Linked DNA regions of Homo sapiens: region 2 is linked to region 1. Evidence: fine-mapped expression QTL. A gene starts in region 1. The other region holds a variant in brackets. All regions are shown on one strand. Distances are between the middles of the regions.

Region 1 (8,726 bases):
ACATTAGAATTTCCCAGGAACATTTAAAACACAGAATGAGACACCCAGGCCTCATCCTATACCCATTATAAAAATTAAAATCTCGACTGGGCACGGTGGCTCACACCTGTAATCCCAGCACTTTGGGAGGCCAAGGTGGGCAGATCACCTGAGGTCAAGAGTTCAAGACCAGCCTGACCAACATGGAGAAATCCCATCTCTACTAAAAAATACAAAATTAACTGGGTGTGGTGGCACTTGCCTGTAATCCGAGCTACTTGGGAGGCTGAGGCAGGAGAATCGCTTGAACCCGGGAGGCAGAGGTTGCAGTGAGCTGAGATCATGCCATTGCACTTCAGCCTGGGCAACAAGAGCAAAATTCCATCTTAAAAAAACAAAAATAAAAAAATAATTAAAATCTCTCGGTGGGACTCAGGCACTCAGTAAATATATATATATCTATTTCCATTGACCATAACACATGACAGACTAAAGATGGCCTCCAATTCTTTGTCACTGTCCCTATAGAGAGGTAGAGTTTATTTTCCCTCCCCTTGAATCTGGCCTTTCCTTAAGACTGTAGAAGAAGAGAAACTGTGTCAGTTCCAGGCTTAGTCTTTAAAGGGACAAACAACTTTTGCCTTCTTTATTTTATTTATTTATTTATTTATTTGAGACAGAGTCTCATTCTGTTGCCCAGGCTGGAGTGCAGTGGTGTGATCTCGGCTCACTGCAACTTCCGCCTCCCAGGTTCAAGCAATTCTCCTGCCTCGGCCTCCTGAGTAGCTGGGATTACAGGTGTGCACAAACACACCCGGCTAATTTTTTTTAATTTTGTTTTTAGTAGAGACGGGGTTTTACCATGTTGGCCAGGCTGATGTTGAACTCCTGACCTCAGGTGATCCACCCACCTCGGCCTCCCAAAGTGCTGGGATTACAGACGTGAGCCACCATGCCCAGCCGCCTTCTCTATTTTAGAAAGCTCTCTTGTGACATCCCCTCTTGAAACCCAGATGCTATCCTCCAAGAAGTCTGAATCAAATGGAGAGGCCATGTGCAGGTACATCATTCAACAGTCCTAGCCGAGCTTTCAACCAACATCCAGCATCAACAGCCAGCCATTTGCAAGTGCCATCTTGGAGATTCCAGCTCAGTTGAGCCACCCTGATGACTGAAGCCCAGGAAGACATCACATTGAACCGAAGAACCGCTCAACTGAGCCCAGTCATCTCACCAGATCAGGAATGATTAAAAAAAAAAAAAAACAAGATTGTTACTCTAAGTTACTCAGTTTTGGGGTGGTTTGTTAACACAGTAATTGATAACCTAAACCCAAAAGAGAACTAAATAATGATGACTTAAAACTAATACCAATTGATTTCTCCCTTATGTAGAATAAATCTGAAGGGAGCAGTCCAAGGCTGGCACAGTGACTCCAAAAAGCATTATGGACCTAAGTTACTTCTGGCTCACCCTCCACCATCTTGAACCTCATCTCATCTTCATGGTTCAAGATGACGCTAGAATACCAGTCATCACATCCACATTTTAGGCAGTTAAGTGAAGGAAGGAAAGTGTACTTCATTAAAGAACCTTTTGGAAGCTGTCTACAATATTTATGCTTATTTATCATTGTCCTAGATGAAGACTTACGGCTACATCTACCTGTAAGTGACACTGAAGAATGTAGTTTTTTACCTGGGTGCCAATGGGCCCAGCTAAAAATCAGAATTCTCAACAGCAAAAGGATGGCTTTGAGATAATCATGTAGATTATGTGCAGATAACTACAGATAAGTCCCCTCCCCCAAGTCTATTTTAAATTTTCTCCTGGAGTATTTTAAAGTAAACCTCAGATATAATATGATTTCATCTATAAGACTTTTTATTTTGGTAACATATTCTTAAGGTTAGGTGTGATAAACACCTAACAAAGTGAATGATTATTTATTTATTTATTTTATTATTATTTTTTGAGATGGAGTTTCACTCTTGTTGCCCAGGCTGGGGTACAATGGTGCGATCTCAGCTCACTGCCACCTCCCCCTCCCAGGTTCAAGTGATTCTCCCACCTCAGCCTCCTGAGAAGCTGGGATTACAGGTATATACCACCAAGCCTGGCTAATTTTTGTATTTTTTGTAGAGATGGGATTAGGCCATGTTGCCCAGGCTGGTGTTGAACTCCTGGGATCAAGCCTTCCACCTACCTCACCTCCCAAAATCTTAGGATTACAGGTGTGATCCACCTTGCCTGGCCCTAAGCTATTCTTTATTCTTTCTTTTTTCGTTTTTTGAATCAGGGTCTCCTTTCTTCATTTCCAAGTGGAATGGAACTTTACCAGGCCTTTCCTGTTGACTGATAAAATTCCAGAGCCTAGTTTTAAAATATGCATATTCCTTGTTAGCAACAGAGATGTTAAGAAGAAATATAGGAGATGTCCTCTTTTCCCTGATACTGCATAAGGAGAAAGATTTTTTCTGAGTCACAACACTAATTTAAGGAATCTGATTTGATAAAGAGTTGAATTGAGAAGATTCACAAGAATATCAGTCTTGTTTTCTGGTACAATATGGAGAACTAAATGAATATTCACAAACATTACTAAATTGTTCTCTGTTGAAATAAATTCATACACAAAACTGTTATTTGAACAAAAGGGTCTTGTAAGAGTCCCAAGCCTTTAAAAATCATTGCCACATCTTGTGAAAATAACTTTCAAAGAAACACCTGTAATTATAGTTGGTTTTACTCCTTATAATTTGTTGCCTTGTTGACTTTTCTATGTTCCAAAACAGTAAGAAGAGTAGGTGCTATCAAGACAAAAAATCCGAAAACAAAAACGAGACTTCGGGGCATTTTGCTCTTCTTCCAAATGCAAGATGAAAAAAAACATGGTTAAAAACTAACTTGCTTGATTTCTTATTTTAACAAAAAAATAAAAAATTTTGTCTGATTCAAATTAACATTTTTTTTTTTTTTTGAGACTGAGTCTCACTCTGTTGCCCAGGCTGGAGTGCAATGGTGCGATCTCAGCTCACTGCAACCTTTGCCTCCCAGGTTCAAGCAGTTCTCCTGCCTCAGCCTCCTGAGTAGCTGGGATTACAGGCGTGCACCACCACGCCCAGCTAATTTTTGTATTTTTAGTAGAGATGAGGTTTCACCATGGTTGGCCAGGCTGGTCTCGAACTCCTGACCTCAGGTTATCTACCTGCCCCGGTCTCCCAAAGTGTTGGGATTACAGGCATGAGCCACTGCGCCAGGCTAAATTAACATAATTATCAAATGCAATCTGTAGACTTTTATTGGATCCTGATTTATTCTTTAAAAACCTGATAGAAATGACATTTTTGAGACAATCAGGGAAATTTGAGTACTGAATGGGTATTAGCTGGTATCAAGGAGGTACTCTTAACTTTCTTGATGTGACAGTGCTGTGGTGCTTATATTATTTTTAAAATGGTTCTTATTTGATAAAGATAGATATGTACTGAAATATTCTGAACTTAAAAAATGAGCTCATGACTGGCTGGGCACAGTGGCTCATGCCTGTAATCCCAGCACTTTGGGAGGCTGAGGTGGGTGGATCACTTGAGATCAGGAGTTTGAGACCAGCCTGGCCAACATGGTGAAACCTCATCTCTACTAAAAAATACAAAAATTAACTGGGCGTGTTGAAGGGCTCCTGTAATCCCAGCTACTTGGGAGGCTGAGGCAGGAGAACCGCTTGAACCTGGGGGTTGGAGGTTGCAATGAGATGAGATTTTGCCACTTCACTCCAGCCTGGGCGAAAGAGTGGAACTCTGTCTCAAAAGAAAAAAAAAATGGTGATGAAGGCCTGGCACAGTGGCTCATGCCTGTAATCCCAGCAGTTTGGGAGGCCGAGGCAGGTGGATCACTTGAGGCGAGGAGTTCAAGACTAGCCCAGCTAACTTGTGAAACCTCATCTTAACTAAAAATACAAACATTAGCCGGGCATGGTGGCATGCGCCTATAATCCCAGCTACTTGGGAGGCTGAGGCCGGAGAATTGCTTGAACCCAGGAGGCTGAAGTTGCAATGACCTGAGATCGTGCCACTGGACTCCAGCCCAGGTAACAGAACCAGACACCATCTCAAAAAAAAAAAAAAGAGTGAAGTGCTTTCATCTCTTCAATACGAACCCTTCAGGGCCAAGTCTGAAGCATTTTCGGGGTTACCTGTTTGATGCCTGAAATCTGCCTGAGACAGAGGAGCATTTCCTGTGAGTCAAGTGCTCGAACACTGGTGTGTGTAAGGAGCATGTTGCAATCAGCAACATCAACATGTTTCCTGAATGTGGATATGGGAGGGGAAACTGAAAGGCTAGGAAAGGCTGTTACTGCCCACACTCTGGGGTGGGAGAGAGGCAGCGACGACTCCAGCTCTTCTCCCATCTGTGGACTGCAGAACCCAAGACGGACTCTGGGAGGGCTAAGGAGCCATCATGATCCCTAAGCTGCTTTCCCTCCTCTGTTTCAGTAAGTCTCACAGGGCTATCCACTGGGACTGCAGAAAATCATGGAACTGGTGGGATAGTTGGGCTGGGGATGGAAATAATAACATCAACTTTGGCTTACTGAGCACACGGGAGGAGTGAGACGTCCTGCTGAGTGCACTGCAGACATTCCCTGGAAACGAGTGCTCTGCAAACTTCAACTCCTGTAGTTTCAACTTCGTGAGTTTTGCTGAATGCCTCCACCACCTGGCTTCATTGGCTTACCCCTTTTCTCAGGATCAACTCTGACTTTTTGTGTGTAAGTAAAAGTATTCAGAATAGAAACCTTATTTTATTTTATTTTATTTTATTTTTTTGAGACAGGGTTTTGCTCTTGTTGCCCAGGCTGTAGTGCAATGGCGTGATCTCGGCTCACCACAACCTCTGCCTCCCGGGTTCAAGCGATTCTCCTGCTTCAGCCTCCTGAGTAACTGGATTACAGGGGTGCGCCACCATGCCTGGTTAATTTTTGTATTTTTAGTAGAGACGGTGTTTCACCATGTTGGCCAGGCTGGTCTCGAACTCCCGACCTCAGGTGATCTGCCCACCTCAGTCTCTCAAAGTGCTGGGATTACAGATGTGAGCCACTGTGCCTGGCCCAGAAACCTTAATACCATAAATAAAAATTTAGTGTCAAATAGATAACTATAAAGTAAATTGAGGCCGCTGTGTAACCATCACCACTATCTACACTAAAACCTCTTTCTTTCTTCCTTCCTTCCTTCCTTTCTTTCTTTTTCTCCTTCCCTTCCTTCCTTCCTTCCTTCCTTCCTTCCTTCCTTCCTTCCTTCCTCCCTTCCTTCCTCTCTCTCTCTTTCTTTTTTTTTTTTTTGAGATGGAGTCTCGCTCTGTCGCCCAGGCTGGAGTGCAGTGGTGCGATCTCTGCTCACTGCAAGCTCCGCCTCCCGGGTTCACGCCATTCTCCTGCCTCAGCCTCCCGAGTAGCTGGGACTACAGGCGCCCGCCACCATGCCCGGCTTTTTTCGTAGGTTTCACTGTGTTAGCCAGGATGGTCTCCATCTCCTGACTTCTTGATCTGCCCGCCTCGGCCTCCCAAAGTGCTGGGATTACAGGCGTGAGCCCCCGCTTGCTTGCCTGCTTGCTTGCTTGCTTGCTTGCTTGCTTGCTTGCTTGCTTGCTTGCTTGCTTTCTTCCTTCCTTCCTTCCTTCCTTCCTTCCTTCCTTCCTTCCTTCCTTTCTTTCTCTTTCTCCTTCATTCCTTCCTTCCTCTCTCTCTTTCCCTTCCTTCCTTCCTTCCTTCCTTCCTTCCCTCCTTTTCCTTTTTTTGAGACAAAGTCTCACTCTGTACCCAGGCTGGAGTGCAGTGGTATGACCACAGCTCACTGCAGCCTCCACCTCCTGGGCTCAAGCAATTCTCCTGCCTCAGCCTCCTGGGTAGCTGAGATTACAGGTGCCCACCACACACCCGGCTGATTTTTTGTACTTTTTAGTAGAGACGGGGTTTCATCATGTTGGCCAGGCTGGTCTTGAGCTCCCTCAGGTGATCACCTCAGGTGATCTGCCCGCCTCAGCCTCAGCCTCCCAAAGTGCTGGGATTACAGGCGTGAGCCACAGTGCCCCGTGTAATTTTTAAATTTTTTGTAGAGACGGGATCTCACTATGTTACTCAGGCTGGTCTCAAACTCCTGGCCTCAAGCAGCCCTTCTGCCTTGGCCTCCCAAAGTGCTGGGATTACAGGCGTGAGCCACTGTGGTGGCTCTGCCACCTTTTTCTCCCATCCTGGCCCTCAGCAGAATACCCACCTCCATTAGGAAGGCCAACCTGCCCGACTCAGCATTAGATTCAAATGCTGATCTTTCTAAAAACACCCTCACAGACACGCCCAGAAATAATGTTTAACCAGATATCCCAGCATCCTGTGGCCTGGTCTAGCTGATAAATCAAATTAACAATCACAATTCCCAATATGAACGCTACACCCTCTAACCAATAACTCTGTATTTGCCGCGGTCCTCCCAGCCCCTGGTAACCTCCATTCTAATTTCTTTTTTTTTTTTTTTTTTCGGAGATGGAGTCTTGCTTCGTCACCCAGGCTGGAGTACAGTGGCCTAATCTCAGCTCACTGCAACCTCCGCCTCCTGGGTTCAAGCGATTCTCCTGCCTCTCCCTCCCGAGTAGCTGGGATCACTGGCGCTCACCACCATGCCTGGCTAAGTTTTTTTTTTTTTTTTTTTTTAGTAGAGACAAGGTTTCACCATGTTGACCAGGCTGGTCTCGATCTCCTGACTTTGTGATCTGCCTGTCTCGGCCTCCCAAAGTGCTGGGATTACAGGCGTGAGCCACCGTGTCCAGCCCATTCTAATTTTTATCTCTATGAATTTGCTTATTCTAGGATGTATGAGTGGAATCATAACACTTGTTCTTTTTTGCCTGACTTAGTTTACTCAGCATAATATCCTCGAGCTACATCTATATTGTAGGATATGTCAGATTTCCTTTCCTTTTTATGGCTAAAATCCCACTGTAGGCCGAGCACAGTGTCTCACACCTGTAATCCCAGCACTTTGAGAGTCTGAGGCAGGCAGATCGCTTGAGCCCAGGAGTTCGAGACTAGCCTGGGCAACATGGTGAAACCCTGTCTCTACAAAAAATACAAAAATGAGGCTGGGCATGGTGGCTCACGCCTGTAATCCCAGCACTTTTTTTGCAATGACCTGACGTAAGGAGTTCGAGAACAGCCTGGCCAATAGGGTGAAACCCCATTTCTACTAAAAATATAAAAATTAGCCATGCGTGGTGGCGGGCGCCTGTAATCCCAGCTACTTGGGAGGCTGAGGCAAGAGAATCGCTTGAACCCAGGAGTCAGAGGTTGCAGTGAGCCGAGATCATGCCATTGCACTCCAGTCTGGGCAACAAGAGCGAAACTCCATCTCAAAATAAATAAATAAATATTAAAAACAACAACAACAACAAAAATGAGCTGGGCATGGTGGTGTGCAGCTGTAGTCCCAGCTACTCGGGAGGCAGAGGTGGGAGGATCACCTGAGCCCAGGGAGTTGATGCTGGAATGAACTAGGATCACATCATTGCACTCCAGCCTGGGCAGCAGAGCGAGACCCTGCCTCAAAAAAAAAAAAAAAAAAAAAAAAAGAAAGAAAGAAAAGAAAAAGAAAAAAGCATTTTGGAGGCTAAGATGGGCGGATCACCTGAGGTGGGGAGTTCAAGACCAGCCTGACCAACATGGTGAAACCCTGTCTCTACTAAAAAATACAAAATTAGCTGGGCATGGTGGTGCATGCCTGTAATCCCAGCTACTTGGGAGGCTGAGGCAGGAGAATCACTTGAACCCACAAGGCGGAGGTTGCAGTGAGCTGTAATCCCAGCTACTTGGGAGGCTGAGGCAGGAGAATCACTTGAACCTGCAAGGCGGAGGTTGCAGTGAGCTGTAATCCCAGCTACTTGGGAGGCTGAGGCAGGAGAATCACTTGAACCCGCGAGGCGGAGGTTGCAGTGAGCCGAGATCGCGCCATTGCACTCCAGCCTGGGCAACAAGAATGAAACTATGTCTCAAAAAAAAAAAAAAAAAAAACGAAGAAAAAGAAGAAAAATCCCATTGAATATATAGAGCACACTGTGTTTATCCATTCTTCCATGGATGGACACTTACGTTGTTTGAACATTTTGGGTGTTCACAATTTCCTTTTGCAAAACTTGAAGTGTCAGTTTATGGATTGGCTCATGGATGTAATAGTAGCACAAACGCCTGGTAACTTCTCCTTTTTCCTGCTGAGACCTAAAACTGTTCACACAGGGGAAAAAGAGGAAATCTCTCAGAGACACAGGCCTAACTAACTTTCTTTGAGTTAGATCAATCTCATTATTATGATAATGTTCATAAACAGGCTTGATATTATGTTTTTTCTTTTCTTTCTCTTTTTTTTTTCTTTCCTGAAACTGAGTCTCGCGCTGTGGCCAGGCTGGAGTGCAGTGGTGCGATCTCAGCTCATTGCAAACTCTGCCTCCTGGGTTCAAGCGATTCTCTGCCTCAGCCTCCTGAGTAGCTGGGATCACAGGCGCCCATCACCACACCTGGCTAATTTTTGTATTTTTAGTAGAGACGGGGTTTCACCATGTTGGCCAGGCTGGTCTTCAACTCCTGACCTCGTGATCCACCTGCCTCGGCCTCCCAAAGTGCTGGGATTACAGGCGGGAGCCACCGCGCCCGGCATGGTCAAGAGTTCTTAACCAGCCCAGCCCTGTCTCTATCAAAAAAA
Region 2 (8,726 bases), 30 kb after region 1:
CATACAATGGAACCGAATGTATTGTAATTGCTCTGTTGAAAATGGGGATCCCAGAACCATTACAAGTCAGGCAAGTAAGAAAAAACCAGACTGATTTCATGCTCTGGAACGTGACAAGTAATGACAGTGGAAACTACAGCTGTGTGTATTACCTGAGCAACTCATCACACTTGGCCTCCTTCCCCAGCAACAAGCTGGAGATCTGGGTGACAGGTGAGGATAGAGTGATAACACTGGCATTTGACATGTATCCAGCATTTTCTATGTTCCTGTCTCCACGACAGGTAACTTGCCTCCACTAACTCATTCAGTCTTCACTTCCTATGAGGGTGGTTGTGTTACTAACTTCTTTTTGCTCATAGAGATTAGGTGACCTCCCCGGTGTCACAAAAACAATGAGCTTCACAGTTGCTATTCAGACATAAATGAAAATTTATATTTCATTATGCCAGAGAAGGAAAGCCAGAAAGAGTGTCCAGTGCTCTATGAGGGATGTAGGAATGGCAAATAATGGATTGTGGGGCTAAGAGATCCCATTGTGTGGAAAAGTATGGGAGGCACGGTGCAGGTAACTGAAAAAAAAATGATGAGGACCACAGTGAGAAGATGCACGTGGGAGGATTGTAACATACATGACTTGAGATCCCAAGGAAGAGGGATAAAGAATAATTTTGCATCACTTTCATCTACCCATTTATCTACTCACCCATCCATCTATCAATCTACCCACCCATCTATCAACCCACCCACCCATCTACCCACCTACCAACCCATCCACCCTCCTACCCACTCATTCACCCATCCATCCACTCACTTATCCATCTATCCATCAACTCATCCATCCATCCATCCATCCATCCATCCATCCATTCATCTATCCATTAATCCATCCAACCACCAACCCTTCCATTCATCTGTCCACCCACCCCTTCATCCATCTATCTACCTACCTACCCATCTATTTACCCAGCCACTCATTTGTCCATCCTTCCACCCATTCATCCACTCATCCACCCTTTCACCCATTCACTCACCCCCACCCACCTATCCATCTATCCATCCATCCATCCATCCATCCATCCATTCATCCATTCATTTATTAGTCACTAAACAATACCTCTCAACTGACCACAGTTGCTTCCAGTAGGTCAGTCCTGCCATATCATGGGAAATCCCTGGAGAGACTTTACAGTCATCAGTGTAGTGTAGAAGTAGCCGTGGGTCCACACCAATGACTTAGCCTGGGCTTGGGGCATGATGAGTAACTGAATACTTAATGTTTCACCTCTGATTTACCCTCTTTCTGAGGCTCTTGATCAATGATACTCCAACAAGGTGCTCATCACTTTGATATTGATTTCAAATTGTATTCCCCATAACTCGTTCTTGTAGTCTTAAGAATTTCTGCACCCACACTTTAGCCCTAAAAGCCTCGCGATTATTTGCCATTTCCCAATTATGTTCTCTGGCATATCATCTACTGTTTCCTGATTTCTTCACCTCTATCGCAGCTGTACCATTACATCACAAGACAGGCTATAGTATCAATTTCCAGTGGTTGATTTTCCAGGTCAGCCTTCCATATACAATCTGTTTGCTGCTTTGCAAATCACTTTATTATACTACTTTTTACTTTTTTATTATACTACTTTTTACTTATTACAAAATGGGCATATAAATGCTTCCATTACAAAAAAAAATTAATGCAAAATACCTGGCACAAAAATAGCTGCCCATTCACCCTACAAATTCAGATACTTTGGTAGATCCTGAGCATATTGTAGGAACTGAGACAGACCAGGTCTCTGGCCAACAGGAGCTCACATTCTTCTTTGGAAGAAAGAAAGAAATAAGAGCAAGCTATCAGAGTAATTAAAAAACACATTATAGATGGAGAATAACTGTGAGAGGCATTGTATTAGTGATCTACAGCTGCATAACAAATTACCACTAATTTAGCAGCCTGAAACACCTATTTATTATCTCACAGTTGATGTGGGTCAGGAGTCCAGGCACAGCTTAGCTGAGTCCTCTGCTTTGGGTCTCATAAGGATGCAATCAAGGTGTCAACAAGGGCTGTGTTCTCATCTGGCTCATCTGGAGGCTTGACTGGGGAAGGGTCCATTTCTCCACTCCTGTGGTTGATAGCAATATCTGGTTCTTTATAGCTGTAGGATTCATGCTAGAATGATTCTGCAGCACTTGCAAGAAGAGAGATTGAGAGAGAGAGAAGAAAGAGAGAGCAAATGCCCTAGCAAACAGAGTTTTATGTAATGTAACATAATCAAGAGCATAACATCCCATCACCTTTGCCATAGCTATTGGTGAGAAGAAAGTCACAGATCTCCACACTCAAGGTGAGGGGATTAGACAAAGGCATGAACACCAGGAAGCAGGGCTCCTGAGTCTCCTGAGTGCCCCCTTAGGGTCTATCTGCCACAAGCATGAAGGATGAGAATGACCCAACCACACCGATATCTGGAGAACAGCCCTCCAGGGAGAGAGAGCAGCAAAAGCAAAGTCTCAGAAGTGTGAGTGTTCCTGGAATGATTGAGACACAGAAAGGAGGACATAAGGCAGGGCCTAGAGCATCTAGGATCTTGTGGGTGTTTGAACTGGTCCTAGAGTCTGCTTTGAAAGAACAGGAACCCACTGATGAAGTTGAGCTGGAGGATGGCATGATTTTATTTATATGCTGGAAGGGTCACTGGCTGCTTTTTTTTTTTTTTTTTTTTTTGAGACAGGGTCCCACTCGGTTGCCCAGGCTGGAGTGCAGTGGTGCAATCACAGCTCACTGCAGCCTTGACCTCCCAGGCCCAGGTAATCCTCCCACCTCAGCCTCCCAAGCATCTGAGATTACAGGCACAGGCCATCATGCCCGGCCTCTGGCTGCTTTTGGAAAATAAGGGACTAGATGTAGTAAGAGTTGGTGCGTTTCAGGCAATACGACTTTTTAAATTTAAAAATATCAAATTGACAAATGAAGATTGTATATATTCAAGGTATACAATCTGATGATTTGATCCACCTGTACATTGTGTAATGATTATCACAGTCAAATTAATTAGCACATCCATTGCCACCATGCTGAGCACCTGAACTTCTTCATCTTAGAACTGGAAACTTATACCCTTTCATCAACATCTCCGCATATATCATGCTAAACAAAATAAGCCAGACTCAGAAAGACAAATTCTGCAGGATCTCACTCATATGTGTAGTCTAAAAAAGCCAAACTCACAGAAGCAACTGGTGGTTGCCAGGGACTGGTGAGTAGGTGATATTTCATTTCATTTTTATTTTTATTTTTATTTTTTTTTTGAGACGGAGTCTGGCTCTGTCCCTCAGGCTGGAGTGCAGTGGCGCGATCTCGGCTCACTGCAAGCTCCGCCTCCCGGGTTCACGCCATTCTCCTGCCTCAGCCTCCCGAGTAGCTGGGACTACAGGGGCCCGCCACCACGCTCGGCTAACTTTTTGTATTTTTAGTAGAGACGGGGTTTCACCATGTTAGCCAGGATGGTCTCGATCTCCTGACCTTGTGATCTGCCCGCCTCGGCCTCCCAAAGTGCTGGGATTACAGGCGTGAGCCACTGCGCCCGGCCAAGTAGGTGATATTTTAACTTAGACTAAATGGTGCCACTGTGGAGATAGAAATATAGGCCAGGTGCAGTGGCTCATGCCTGGAATCCCAGTATTCTGAGTGGCCAAGGCAGGTTGATCACTTGAGGCCAGGAGTTTGAGACCAGCCTGGCCAACATGGTGAAACCCTGTCTCTACTAAAAATACAAAAATTAGCAGGGTGTGGTGGCGGGCGCCTGTAGTCCCAGCTACTTGGAAGGCTGAGGCAGGAGAATCTCTTGAACC[C/T]GGGAGGCGGAGGTTGCAGTGAGCTGAGATCATGCCACTGCACTCCAGCTTGGGTAACAGTGCAAGACTCAAAAAAAATAAAAGAAAGAAAGAATTTGGGTGAATGGTGTTCTTTGTCAAGATAGAGAAGACTGGCAAGGAATCAAACTGGAGGGGGCGTTAGCAGGGTCATTCATAAATATTTTTGTTATTAAAAATACTATCAAACTCCAGGACTATTAAGAAGAGTAATCTGAGGCTCTGTCCATGCTCTGAGGACCCAGGGAGCATCTAGGGAATGGAGAAGCCATTCTCTTTTCTGCTTCCCAAAGAAGAACAGGATGTCTATAAGTAGGACGTGAGGACTCCTGTCCCCAAGGTTCCTGTATGATTAGTGTAATTCCTTTTCTTCCCTCCTATTTTCTAGATAAACACGATGAACTTGAAGCTCCCTCAATGAAAACAGGTAAGATAATTAGAAAGGAGATGTTTTTCCCAATGAGATCTGCTTCATGATCACCTTTGCTTAAAGTGCACAAGGAGAACTTTATTTATTTGTTTGTTTGTTTGTTTGTTTGTTTTTTGAGATAGAGTCTCGCTTTGTCACCAAGGCTGGAGTACAGTGGCGCAATCTCAGCTCACTGCAACCTTCGCCTCCCGGATTCAAGCAATTTTCCTGCCTCAGCCTCCCGAATAGCTGGGACTACAGGCACGCACCACCACACCCAGCTAATTTTTGTATTTTTAGTAGAGACGGGGTTTCACCATGTTGGCCAGGCTGGTCTCGAACTCCTGACCTTGTGATCTGCCCGCCTCAGCCTCCCAAAGTGCTGGGATTACAGGCGTGAGCCACCGCACACGGCCTATTTATTTTTTTGAGAAAGAGTCTTGTTCTGTCCCCCAGGGTGGCGTGAAGTGGCACAATCTCAGCTCACTGCAACCTCCACTTCCTGGGTTCTGGGTTCAAGCAATTCTCCTGCCTCGGCCTCCCGAATAGCTGGGATTACAGGCACCCACCACCATATCCAGCTCAGTTTTGTTTTTTGTTTTTTGTTTTTAGTAGAGATGGGGTTTCACCATGTTGGCCAGGCTGGTATCAAACTCCTGACCTCAAGCAATTCCCCCGCCTCGGCCTCTCAAAGTGTTGGGATTACAGGCATGAGCCACCGCACCCGGCCTAGAAGAACTTTAAAGCCCATTTTCTCAATGTTATTGGGGAAACTGCTGTGTTTTGGGGGGTGGAGGATGAGGGGAGATAACCTCTAAAGTGCTTCCGGGTTCTGAAGAAGCTGGTGTGTAAAACAGCACAGAGTGCGTTGTTTGCCATATGACATGATGAAAAACTAGGGTGGGATTTGGGGAATAATGGGGGTGAATTTTTCAGTGACCCATTTGGGGAGTAGGACCAGGACCTACGCAGAGTAGGTACTTCAGGAATATATATAATCAAGAGTTTGTTATAACTCTAAAATTCTCAAAAATAGGTGAATATTGAATTTTTTTTCTAATGTTGCTTATTCATTAACAATTGACTAAGATTCTGTCCTCAGAGTTTCTCATAAAAATTAGAGCTTTTGGGCCAGGCGAGGTGGCTCACATCTGTAATCCCAGCACTTTGGGAGGCCGAGGTGGGCGGATCACCTGAGGTCAGGAGTTCGAAACCAGCCTGGGCAACATGGTGAAACCCTGTCTCTACTAAAAATACAAAAATTTGCTGGGCATTGTGGTGGGCGCCTGTATTCCCAGCTACTCAAGTGACTGAGGCAGGAGAATTGCTTGAACCTGGGAGGCAGAGGTTGCAGTGAGCCGAGATTACACCACTGCCCTCCAGCCTGGGCAACAGAGTGAGACTCTGTCTCCAAAAAAAAAAAAAAAAAAAAAAAATTAAAAAGTTAGAGCTTTTGGCAGCATTCGGCTGAAACAGGAACTCATCCAGACTTTAAGGGCCAAATGCAGAATATAAATTGGCATCTAGATGCTTAATCATCCTTCCTTTCAGCAAGTCATAATCTTCCTGCAACCTACTCCAAAGAGCCAAAGTTGCTGAAGGTTGTTGCTAGCAGTCTGTGCTGGTATAATCGGTTTTCAAAAAGGTATCCTCCAAAGTGTTCTTGCAAGATAACTATTTGAAACGTTTTTATTCCATGATAGTAGGCTTGGGAAATGTCTGCTACCCTAGCACTACGAACACAATTCACGTCAGGAACGTTTTCTGAGAAAGATATGAAATCTAATGGGAGAGAGGAACACAGAAGTATCAGAAACGAGGTGGGAGATCTAGTGAGGTGTGAGGGGGAGGAGGAAGAGAAGCTTTTCTATTTTGAGCTCTTGTATCATTTATTTTCTTTCTTTTTTTATTGATATATAATTCACAGTCCAAAAATTCACCCTTGTAAAGTGTCCAATTCACTGGCATTTTGTATCTTCATGAGGTAGTATAACCATCACCACTACATAATTCCAGAACATTCTCATCACCCTAAAAGAAAATCTTGTACCCATTAAGCAGTCACTCCTCATTTCCCACTTTCCCACCAGGCCCTTCCAACCATTCATATGCTTCTCTGTGTCTATGATTTTGTCTATTCTGGACATTTTGTGTAAGTGGATTCATACACTATGTGATCCTTTGTGACTAGCTCCTTTCTCTTTAGCATAATGTTTTCAAAGTTTGTCTGTACTGTAGCATGCATCAATGTTTCATTTCTTGTCATGGTGAAAAGCATCGTATTGTATGGATAGACCACATTTTGCTTATCCATTCTTTTTTTTGTTTTTGTTTTTGTTTTTTTGAGACGGAGTCTTGCTCTGTCGCCCAGGCTGGAGTGCAGTGGCACAATCTCAGCTCACTGCAACCTCCGCCTCCCAGGTTTAAGTGATTCTTTTGCCTTAACCTCCTGAGTAGCTGGACCTACAGGCGCCCGTCACCATGCCTAGCTAATTTGTGTATTTTTAGTAGAGAGGGGGTTTCACCATGTTGGCTAGGCTGGTCTCGAACTCCTGACCTCAGGTGATCCACACGCCTCAGCTTCCCAAAGTGCTGGGATTACAGACTTGAGCTACTGTGCCTGGCCCCGTTCTTCTTTTGATGGACATTTGTGTTGTCTGCACCTCTTGGCTAAAGCGAGTAATGGTGCTGGAACACTGTGGTAGGAGTATCTGTTTGTCTCCGCGCTGTAAATTATCTTGAGTATGTACCTAGAAGTGGATTTGCTAGGACATATGGTGACTATTATGTTCAACTTTTTGAGGAACTGCCAAATCATTTTCCATTGTGGCTGTATCATGTTATATTCCTTCCAGTAATATATGTGGGTTCCAATATCTCCACATCCTTGTCAACACTTACTTTTCTTTTTTTAAATTATAGCCATCCCAGTGGGTATTATATAATTTCTTAAAATGTACTTTTTGAGTTCAAATTTGTATCATCACAATTCTAAACAGAATAAAATATCTTTGCCGGGCGCAGTGGCTCACGTCTGTAATACCAGGACTTTGGGAAGATGAGGCAGGAGGATCACTTGAGCCCAGGGGTTCAAGACCAGCCTGGACAACTTGGTAAGATCCCATCTCTACAAAAAATACAAAAATTAGCCAGGCGTGGTGGTGTGCACCTGTAGTCCCAGCTACTTGGGAGGCTCAGGCAGAAAGATCGTTTGCGCCCAGGAGGTTGAGGCTTCAGTGAACTGTGATTGCGCCACAGCACTCCAGCCTGGGTGACAGAGCGAGACCCTGTTTCAGTAAATAAATAAAATAAAAGTAAAATATCTGTAAGCACAGGTATGATGTCCCCAGCCTGTATTTATATGCCTAAAACACACTAGAAAACGACTCTATGTTCAATCGCAATGTAGAGAATGAAGATGAATTTTATCACACAAGACTTGACTTTCTTTCTGGTGCCTGTGCCTCCATTTATGCCCCGTGTCAGGCTGTATCTTGTTGCTCACGCTGACTTTAGTAGCGTAGCAAGTTATGATTTATTCTGGCAATTTGCAAATACTGATGCAACATTTGGCCAGGATCTGTGGACATCTCAGGGTGAACCCAGTTCAGCTGATTATGGGGTCATATGAAGATGAGAATTTTGCAATAATGTACTTCTCATTTCTAGTGAATTGCTGTGTGAAAGATACCGTAGGCTGGAAAAGGGGAGAACAGAAAGGACAAGGCAAGGCTGCTGTTTCTCTGCTTCCATCTGGGGAAACTGAGAGTCCAGGAGCAGCTGTTCCTGCCCTGTTTTCATAAGTCCTTGGAGATGCACTGATAGAATTGTTGCTTATGGCCAGGCATGGTGGCTTATGTAATCCCAGCACTTTGGGAGGCCAAAGTGGGCAGAACACTTGAGCTCTGGAGTTTGAGACCAGCCTAACCAACATGGTGAAACCTCATCTCTACTAGAAATATAAAAAATTAGCGGGGTGAGGTGGCGGGTGCTTGTAATCCCAGCTCCTTGGGAGGCTGAGGCAGGAGAATTGCTTGAACCCCAGAGGGGGAGGTTCCAAAGCCGAGATTGTACCACTGCACTCCAGCCTGGGAGACAGAGTGAGACTGTCTCAAAAAAAAAAAAATTGTTGCTTTTGAGGGGTTCTCTGATTCAGCTCCACCAGAAGCAGGCTCTTAGACAGCATTAGTGTGAAAGTGACGTTTTATTTTATTTATTATTTATTTAGTTTTGAGACAGAGTTTCGCTCTTGTTGCCCAGGCTGGAGTGCAATGGCGTGATCTTGGCTCACTGCAACCTCCGCCTACCAGGTTCAAGAGATTCTCCTGCCTCAGCCTCCCAAATAGCTGGGATTACAGGCATGCACCACCACACCCAGCTAATATTCTATTTTTAGTAGAGACGGGGTTTCTCCATGTTGGTCAGGCTGGTCTCG

The links.
Region 2: its variant is fine-mapped to the expression of TARM1 in whole blood (TOPMed, PIP above 0.99).

What each region holds. Positions count from the first base shown.
Region 1 is chr19:54,077,055-54,085,780 of GRCh38, reverse strand. It overlaps TARM1 (T cell-interacting, activating receptor on myeloid cells 1), which reads left to right and starts at 4,416. Exons shown (of 5, transcript NM_001135686.3): 1 at 4,416-4,474. The coding sequence starts at 4,441.
Region 2 is chr19:54,046,993-54,055,718 of GRCh38, reverse strand. It overlaps VSTM1 (V-set and transmembrane domain containing 1), which reads left to right. Exons shown (of 9, transcript NM_198481.4): 4 at 4,271-4,309. Among named protein-coding and RNA genes, the nearest start is that of VSTM1, 13 kb to the left of the region's middle. The variant C/T (reference allele first, on the strand shown) is at 3,865.